2 separate regions of the Homo sapiens genome follow, and region 1 is linked to region 2. Evidence: fine-mapped expression QTL. Tissue or cell type: whole blood. Region 2 holds a variant in brackets; the other region holds the start of a gene. All regions are shown on one strand. Distances are between the middles of the regions. Region 1 holds the start of CTBS (chitobiase). Region 2 holds the start of RPF1 (ribosome production factor 1 homolog).

Region 1 (4,391 bases), 95 kb before region 2:
TTTTTCCCTTTGCTCTTTTGCTTCATATTCTTCTGCTGTAATAAATCTTAACTGTGAGTACAACTGAGTCCTATGAGTTCTTTTAGTGCATCACTGAACCTGGAGGTGATCTTAGGGATCCCTAACACAGGTAGATATGTGTTTTCTTCTGTGTCACAGAATACAGTCTGATTCTATGAGTCAGAAGGCTCTTTTCCTTGAAAACTTGATTCAGTGCAACCATTCATGTTAAAAACATAGTTACATTTCAGTATCATGAGGGATTGGTTCCAGGACTCCCAGATACCAAAATCCATGGATGCTCAAGTCCCTTATATAAAATGGCATAATCTATGCACATCCTCCTGTACTTCAAATAATCTCTAGATTAATTATAATAATACGATGTAATGCTATGTTGACAGTGCTCTTGCCGTATTTTTATTTGCATTTTTAAATTGCTGTATTATTTGTTATTTTTAAATACTGTTATCTGACATTGGTTAAAACCATGGATGTGGAACCTCTGGTTATGGAGGTTCAATTGTACTTTTTTTTTTTTTGAGACAGGATCTTGTTTTGTCACCCAGGCTGGAGTGCAGTGGCATGATCATAGTTCACTTCAGCCTCAACCTCCCGGCTTCAAGCAATCCTCTCATCTCAGCCTCCCGAGCAGCTGGGACTACAAGCTTTTACCACCGCACTGGCACACAGGGCTAATTTTTTGCTTTTTATTTTTTGTAGAGACAGGGTCTATGTTCCCCAGGCTGGTCTCAAACTCCTGCCCTCAAGTAATCCTCCTGCCTTGGCCTGCCAAAGTTATGCAATTGCAGGTGTGAGCCACAGTGCCTGGCCTAGCTTTTCATTCTGAAAACGCGTGTTCTTCAGTCCTGGAGCCTTGATAATTACTTATTTCTTTTCTTTTCTTTTTTTTTTTTTTTTTTGGAGACAGAGTCTCACTCTGTTGCTGAGGCTGGAGTGCAGTGGTGTGATCTCTGCAACCTCCACCTCCCAGGTTCAAGCGATTCTCCTGCCTCAGCCTTCCGAGTAGCTGGGATTACAGGTGTCTGCCACCATGCCCAGATAATTTTTGTATTTTTAGTAGAGATGGGGTTTCACAATGTTGGCCAGGCTGGTCTCAAACTCCTGAGCTCAAGTGATCTGCCCACCTCGGCCTCCCACAGTGCCGGGATTACAAGCATGAACCACTGTGCCCAGCCCAAATTACTTATTTCTTCTTATTTGTACTACGCTGCTTCTCAAGCACCTTTAAGAATTATTTATTTCATCCCCTCTGTACTGCGTTTTCCAATTTTCTTATCTTTCAGAGTTTTTGCTCTACATTCCTCAGTGTTATCTTCTACTAATAGTTTTTTCACTTCTTTCTTATTTCTATTAACTTTTAAAAATCCCCTACCCCTTTTATTGCACCCTGTTGTGGCTTCATCTTCTCTTATTTTTCTGGGGCTATTATGAGAATTTTTAAAAGTGTTCTCCCTGCAGCATCTGCTTCCTCCATATTCCTTTGTCTGTTGTTTGGGTCCCTTCTTTCTACATTATTGGATTTTTTTGGTTGCTGTCCATGATTAAAAGTAAAAATTAAAAAGTACAAAGAGAGGAAGCTCCAAGTAGATAGCTGGTGCTTTTAACTTTGAATTTCACTGTAGGGTGATCTGGGTGTATGATTTGTCCAGAAAACCCGATGTCAGTATCTTTGCTCAGCCTCTTAGGTTAATCAGATAGCGAGGGGTTTCAGTTTTCAGTAGGCATAAAGCCACTTATTCTCCGTTTTAGGTGGAATACCCACTCAGCAGAGAATTTATCCCCTTCAGGGAATTCAGCCGGGGTGGGAGCCCGTGGTGGGAAAGAGGGGCAGCTGCCCAGAGACATGAAGCTGGAAAAAGGATCTAGCGATCAGAGTCCTTGAGCAGCCTTTGACTAATCTCCCCCTTTTCCGATTTACCTCTCATACTCATACTTGTGCTCTCCAGCTTCCAACATTTTGTTGCTGTTATCTCTTTGTCCTTGTGTTTAGGTTGTTAAACTTGATTTTTAACAGGAGAGTAGGCAAAATTAGATGCTTGAATTCAAACCACGATCTTAACTAAGACCTGATATCCGTAAGTAAAAATTTTTGGTATTCCAGCTTTCTTTTGAGTAGCAAAAGAAAAACAAAGTCTTTTGGCCACTCCAACCATGTTACTCAGTAGGCCCTTCCAAAGACACCCACTTCTCCATTTTGGGGATCCCCTTGTACCTTCAGACTCCACAAGGAGTACACGACCAGCCACGACAAAACGAGATGCAGACTATTGGGAGGACTATAAACGGTAGGGGTGATACCCATTTGAGTCCACGAACGGCCCTCTCGGCGCCGCAGACACTGGCTGTCCCCCGAGACGCTCCAGCAGCCACTTAACTTCACCCACCTGTAGCGCCCGGGGACGCTCGAAGCCCGACCTCCCACGCCCGCCCCGGAGCCCCGCCCCTCCCGCCCCTCCCCGCCCTTCCCGACTCTCCCCGCCCCTTCCTGCCCCGACGCGCAGCAGGCCCCGCCCACCCAGGCGGTAGGAACCCACTCCGGCCCGCTAGACCTGCTGCTATGTCCCGGCCGCAGCTTCGACGCTGGCGCCTCGTCTCTAGCCCGCCGAGCGGCGTCCCGGGTCTAGCGCTGCTGGCGCTGCTGGCGCTGCTGGCGCTGCGGCTCGCGGCCGGGACCGACTGCCCATGCCCGGAGCCTGAGCTCTGCCGCCCGATTCGCCACCATCCAGATTTCGAGGTCAGCGCCTTCCTCTGCTCCTCTAGGTCTGGGCTTCAGGGCACGAAGAGAAGTTAGGGTAGAACGGAGCCCTAAGGAGAGGTGCCGTGGGCGCCGAAACCAGCTTTGACCACTCGATGAGGGCCTTCCTGTTTACGGATCCTTCAATTTATAGATGAGGAAGCTCGGGCTCAGAGAAGTTGAGTAACTCCTCAGGCCTCACAGCCTGTAAGTGCCTGCGTAGGCAGGCGAGAGTTCAAACCAGATCTGCCTCCTAAGGCAAGCTCCTTTCATTCCCCTGCTGTGCCTCTGCGGAAGCACTCTGGGTGTAAAAAGCAAACAAGGTAGGATAATCCATTTATGTTTCCAAGGAACGAGGATTTCGTTTGAAAGAATCTCAGCACTCCAACAGTACATTAGAATGCAGAGTATTTTGCTTACCTTTAGTTTTCTATACCTGCTAGCCCTTTCCTTTAAAGTACCTCAAAACCACCCATGAAGAGTGGTAAAAAAAATAGCTTTCAGTACATTTTCCTTCTATCTACATAACAATTTGTAAGGCTTCTGGCAACTTTAATCAAACACCTTCTGGAGCAATATTAAAACCACCTGACTGCCCACTTCGATGACTGAAAGCAGGAATTGGATGACATCAGGAAGGTCCAAAGGCTTAATTCAAAGAACGATTCTTTTGTAGAAATAGGCATGATTCCTAGTTCTTAATCTAGTACATTAATCTGAGGCAGAACACTTAGATGCCAGTAAAAAAGTATATATACATGACTTAGGAGAAGAAATAAAAATGGTGAAAGTGTTTATGGAGAACCTGCCTAGTGTGGAAACCTAACATCTTATTAAAAGAAAGACTTCAGACAAAGTAGGATAACCTTTTTTATTTGAGCAAAGAACAACTTATGAATCGGCAGTACTTAAACCAGAAGGGGTTCAGAGAGGTCTGCTTTAGTAGCATGGGCTTTTATAGGCCGAACAGGGAAGCAAAGGAAAATAATTACTTGGTTGGCTATGACTGTTTGCCTTATTTAGCTATGACTTGGTGGAAAATTACTAGTTAGAGGTTAGTTGGCAGTTTCTGATAGGTTAAGCTTAAGTTTCCTTTCACTGTTGACCTTGGGCTGGAGTTTGCTTAAGCAGGAAATCCAAGGCAGTTGGAGCTGTTTCAGCATAATGGCCTCCCAATTAAAATGTTTTATACAATCTGAGGCCCAGCGCGGTGGTAGAGGCAGTGGGGACAGTAGCTGTAAAAGTTCAACCAGACATTTCTTAATTTTCTCAATCTCTTTTTGAGATTGAGAAGCACTTTGTGAGGCCAAGGTGGGTGGATCACTTGAGGTCAGGAATTCGAGAACAGCCTGGCCAACATGGTGAAACCCCGTCTCTACTAAAAATACAAAAATTAGCTGGGCGTGGTGGCGGGCACATGTAATCCGAACTACTTGGGAGGCTGAGGCAGGAGAACCGCTTGAACCTGGGAGGCGGAGCGGGAGGCGGAAGGTTGCAGTTAGCCAAGATCACGCCACTGCACTCCAGCCTGGGCGACAGAGCAAGACTATGTCTCAAAAAAGAGAAAAAAAAAAAACCTGAAAGATTTACTGTAGTACCCAATACTTAGTGGGTTAGGCAATATCTGTGGGCA
Region 2 (4,391 bases):
CCTCCCACTCCCCATTCTCACTTTTCACAGGTTCATATCCTCTGTACCAGCTCTAAAGCTTAACACACCCTTATCACCCTACTCCAGAAGAGGATCTGTCCTGCCTTTCCCCAGCCTTGCCTGACCAAAAATCTTTGCTTCACATGACAAGAGCCAAGCTCCAGGCCTAACCTGGGGGAGCTTCCCCATTCCCAAAGTCAGGGAGAGGTGTTGACCTCTGAAACACAAAGTTATATGCAAAATACCACCACTGTGTTACCGTATAGGTACACAAACATACACAGTAAAGGTAAAAGAAGTGCATGGAAAAAATAATCAAAAATTTCACGAGTGGTTATCTTCGGAGGGAAAAGCAATTATGAAGCAGACGAGGGGCTTCCAACATTCTTTGCTAATGCATTATTTCTTAAGCTGGGTAAATGATACAAAGAGGTTTATTATATTACTTTTGTATTTCTTCATACATCTGAAATACGTAATAATAAATTTTAAAAGAAAGTAATTCAACTTAAATATCAGGAGGGATTCCCTAATATAAGATAGAAAGCAAACAGCTAAAAATTTTATTTACCTTATCGCCAAGAGCCTCTCTTTCTTTTTTAAGTTTTTTCTTAGCTGCCAACTTTTCCTAAAGGGTTAAAAAAAAAGAGAACAATACTGAGAAACAACCAGTTATATCACAAACACATACTGAAACTACAAATTACTAATGCTATGAATACTCGAACTGGGCGGTCTTTGTAATCTATTGAAATAAGCATCTGGACGTGGAGTTTTCTACCTAAATTACTGTAAGCCAAATGAGCTGGCCAATCAATAAGATTTCTTTAACAAAGACCTGCTCCTTTAAAAAAATCTAAACTGGCAAGTTTGAACATTTAAAATTTGAGTAGCTTAACCTTTTTCCATAAAGCCTCAAATTAATTAAAGTATGTGATGGTTTCCACTGTGTTTTGTTTTGCCTAACTGGTGGCATCCTAAAGACGACCATGGTTATGCTGCTTGCTTCTCTTGAAAAGCACTAAAAATAGGAATGGGAGCTGAGTTTTCAGGTTGTTTTCCATAAAACCATCACCAGTTATTCACATATTTTATAATCAAAATATACTTCTAAAATTTAGTAAGAGCTTGCAAGGTGGCTTAAGATTATCTGTATTTGTATTGTCAATCTATATATTCTTCTGGAGATTTCTAGATAGAATGCTTGACAAAATAAAAAATATTCTTTTTTCCCCAGCACCTACTGATCCTCAATCCACCAGGTTTCAGATTAGAAATCATAGCTCCAATAAGTCTTCCAGGACATCCCTCCCCAATACGTGCATACCAGAATGAGTTAAACGCCCCTTGTATGTATTGAAACAGCACCTTGACACTGAACATGAGTAAGAACCAGTCCCGGGCCTCAGAAGGGCCAGTAAGAGGAGGCAGACACATAATAATAATATTGTGTGAACTTCTACGATGTGCAAGAATAAGCAAACGTTTTCTTCCAATTGCAATTTAACCAGAAATGAGCACTGCGACCTTGACAAGTCGTTTAAACCTCTTTACGTTTCAGTTTGTTTACCTACCAGAAACGTATAAGGATAAAGCTGAAAAGAACAAATACAATTACCAGAAACTTTACAGTACTAATTTCGGTAAGGAGCTCCTGCAGGAATCAGAGAAGCAGTATTTTGGATTTATTACGTATTGCCTCCATTTCAGATTCTGCAAATTAACCAACGCTACCTAGACGGACCAAAGGGCTGAGACTTTTGCCTTCTGGGCCAGGAGGGCGTAGTTTTCACTACTAAGCCAACTGGCCTTACAGCTTTCCTTGTGAATCTAGCGTCCCAGGAAAGAGCCTATCAAGATAATCTTCCACCTTGACGCTCAGGCAAAAGGCTGAACCTAGAGTCTCCAAACTAGGGCGAGGGGACCAGAACACGTGGGCCGCGACGCCACCCTTCCCACGGAGCCACAGAGAACACTTTTGAGACCAGCAGACAACCACAGATGTGCGCCCCGCGACCGCCCTAAGCGTCAGGAACAACGCGCAAGCGCCCGGCAGCCCCCGCCTCTCGCGTACCTTCCGCTGCTGCTGTTTCCACCGCGTGAACATTAAGTGTCGCCGCTGTTTGTTTTTAATCTCCGAAATGCTAAAGCCTGGCGGAAAGGCAGCCGCTTTCGGGGGTTGGACCCCGTTTTCCGTCGCCCCATCCCCAGCGCCTGCAGCCTCCTGAAGTTCTTCGGCAGCGGCTTTCCGTTTTAGACTTTTCTTCCCGCTGCTGCTGCTCTTATCCCCGGCTTTCGCCATGGTCTTGGCTCCTTTGCTTCCGTACGGAAACGGAAATAGCCTTCTCCTGTGACCCCCTTCCTTAACCTTTTACTTCCGGGGTCGCAAAGTTTTTGACGCTAGATGTGTTTTGTGAGTTTTAGCCATTCAAGAAAATAGTAAAGCTGAGGCTTGAGGAAACTTTAGGCAGTTTGCCCAGCTGTATAAAGAGTGAGATGATGAGTTTGGGCACTCCTTGCGCATCTATGTGCCCAGCCCTCAAAATAATGGAACAACAACAAAAACCGTGCCTGGATTAGTTTACGTTTTACTTGAGGGAAACCTAAAAT[G/T]AGCATACAAATAAATTATGGTGAGCTACAGAGTAAGACATGGTATGGAAAAAAAATAGAACAGGATAAAAGAAGATGAAGAGACATTCATCTTTTTGAGACGGAGCCTTGCTTTAATGCCCAGGCTGGAGTGCAGTGGCACGATCTCCGATCACTGCAAACTCCTCCTCCTGAGTAGCTGGGACTACAAACACGTGCCACCATGCCCGGCTAATTTTTGTATTTTTGCAGAGATGGAGTTTCACCATGTTGGCCAGGCTGGTCTTGTACTCTTGATTTCAGGTGATCTGTCCGCCCTGGACTCCCAAAGTACGTTGCAATTTTAAATAGGATTCTCAGAGTAGGCTTCATTGAAAACGTTACATTGAGCCAAGGTTTGAAGGAGGTAATGGGCTAAACTAGTTATCTGAGGGAAGAGCTGTTAATCTGAGAAAAGCTGGTTATCAAGGAGAAAAGCTGTCCTGGCAAAGCAAACAGCCAGCTCCAATGCTCCTAGTCAGTAGCAAGCCAGGAAAGGCAAGAAGTGTTGAGATTGGACAGGTGGTGTAGAGTTTTGTAAGGACTTTGGCTTTTATTTTATGTGAGATGAAGATCTCTTATAGAATTTTGAGGAAAAGAATGGTATGATCTTAACATCTTAAAAGTATCAGGCTGGTGCAGTGGCCCATGCCTGTAATTTTAGCACTTTGGGAGGCCAAGGCAGGAGGATTGCTTGAGCCTGGGAGTTCAAGACCAGCTTTGGCAACACTGTGAGACCCCATGTCTACAAAAAGTAAAAAAATATATATATCTGTTTGGGCATGGTGTACATCTGTGGTCCCAGCTACTCAGGAGGCTGAGGCAGTAGGATCCATTGAGCCTGGAAGGCTAGGTTGCAATGAGCCATGTTGGTGCCACTGCATTCCAGCCTGGGTGAGAGGGTGAGACCCTCTCAAAAAAATAAATAAAAATAAAGTAAAAGCGTCATTCAGAATCTTCTTTTGAGAAGAGCCTATGCAGGGGCAGGGTGTGTGGAAGAAGGGAAGAAATGATAGTGGCCTGAACCAGGGTAAGTCTTGTGTAGGTGGTTGAGAAGTGATTCCTCTGGAAGGTAAAGTTACTGATGGAACTGAAGGGAGGACATGAAAGAGTCAAGGATGACTCCAAGACTTTCGACCTGAGTGATTCAAAGGATGGAGTTACCATCAGGTGAAATGCGGGAAAGTTCAGATGGAACAAATCTGAGAGGTAAGATCAAGATTTCAGTTTTGGAAATGTTAAGTTTGAGATACTTTTTAGTGATCTGATTGGTGGTGTCAACTAGTCAGTTGGGATGTATGATTCTGCAGCAGGACAGAGAGGTGTGGGCTAAAGATCAAACTTTGGAAGTAATTGGCACATAGGTAGTATTTCAAACCATTAGAATGAGTGTAGATAGAAAACTGAAAAAAGAAGATCAAGGACTGAACCCTGGAGGAGTCCTGCATGAAGAGATGGAAAGAAAAGGAGGACCCAGCAAAGGAGAAGGAGAAGAGAAAATCAAGAGAGTAGAATGTCATGGAAGGCAAGTGAAGAAAGTGTTTTCCTAGTGGTTAAATTTGCTGTATTCTTCATTCTAATTTTATGAAAATGCTTTCCAAATAGCAACAAGAAATCCCTTTTGATTTACTGTTAGGAGTCAGTTTTCCAGAATCTGCCTTAATTTCAAATTTTATGTACCAATATCTATATTTCGTGTTTTGAGAATCCAATATGTTTTTGTCCACATTTCATTTTTCACCCATTCAAATTCTATTTAACAA

The links. PIP is the estimated chance that this variant, and not a neighbour inherited with it, causes the effect.
Region 1: it holds the start of CTBS, and the variant in region 2 is the best candidate, but not a certain one, in a credible set for the expression of CTBS in whole blood (TOPMed, PIP 0.71).

Annotation. Positions count from the first base shown.
Region 1 is chr1:84,572,606-84,576,996 of GRCh38, reverse strand. It overlaps CTBS (chitobiase), which reads left to right and starts at 2,557. Exons shown (of 7, transcript NM_004388.3): 1 at 2,557-2,758. The coding sequence starts at 2,582. RefSeq lists a silencer at 2,425-2,544 and enhancers at 2,705-2,994, 3,105-3,204, 3,918-3,967.
Region 2 is chr1:84,477,193-84,481,583 of GRCh38, reverse strand. It overlaps RPF1 (ribosome production factor 1 homolog), which reads right to left and starts at 2,318. Exons shown (of 9, transcript NM_025065.7): 1 at 2,075-2,318; 2 at 572-628. The coding sequence starts at 2,302. RefSeq lists enhancers at 1,742-1,901, 2,097-2,657. The variant G/T (reference allele first, on the strand shown) is at 2,611.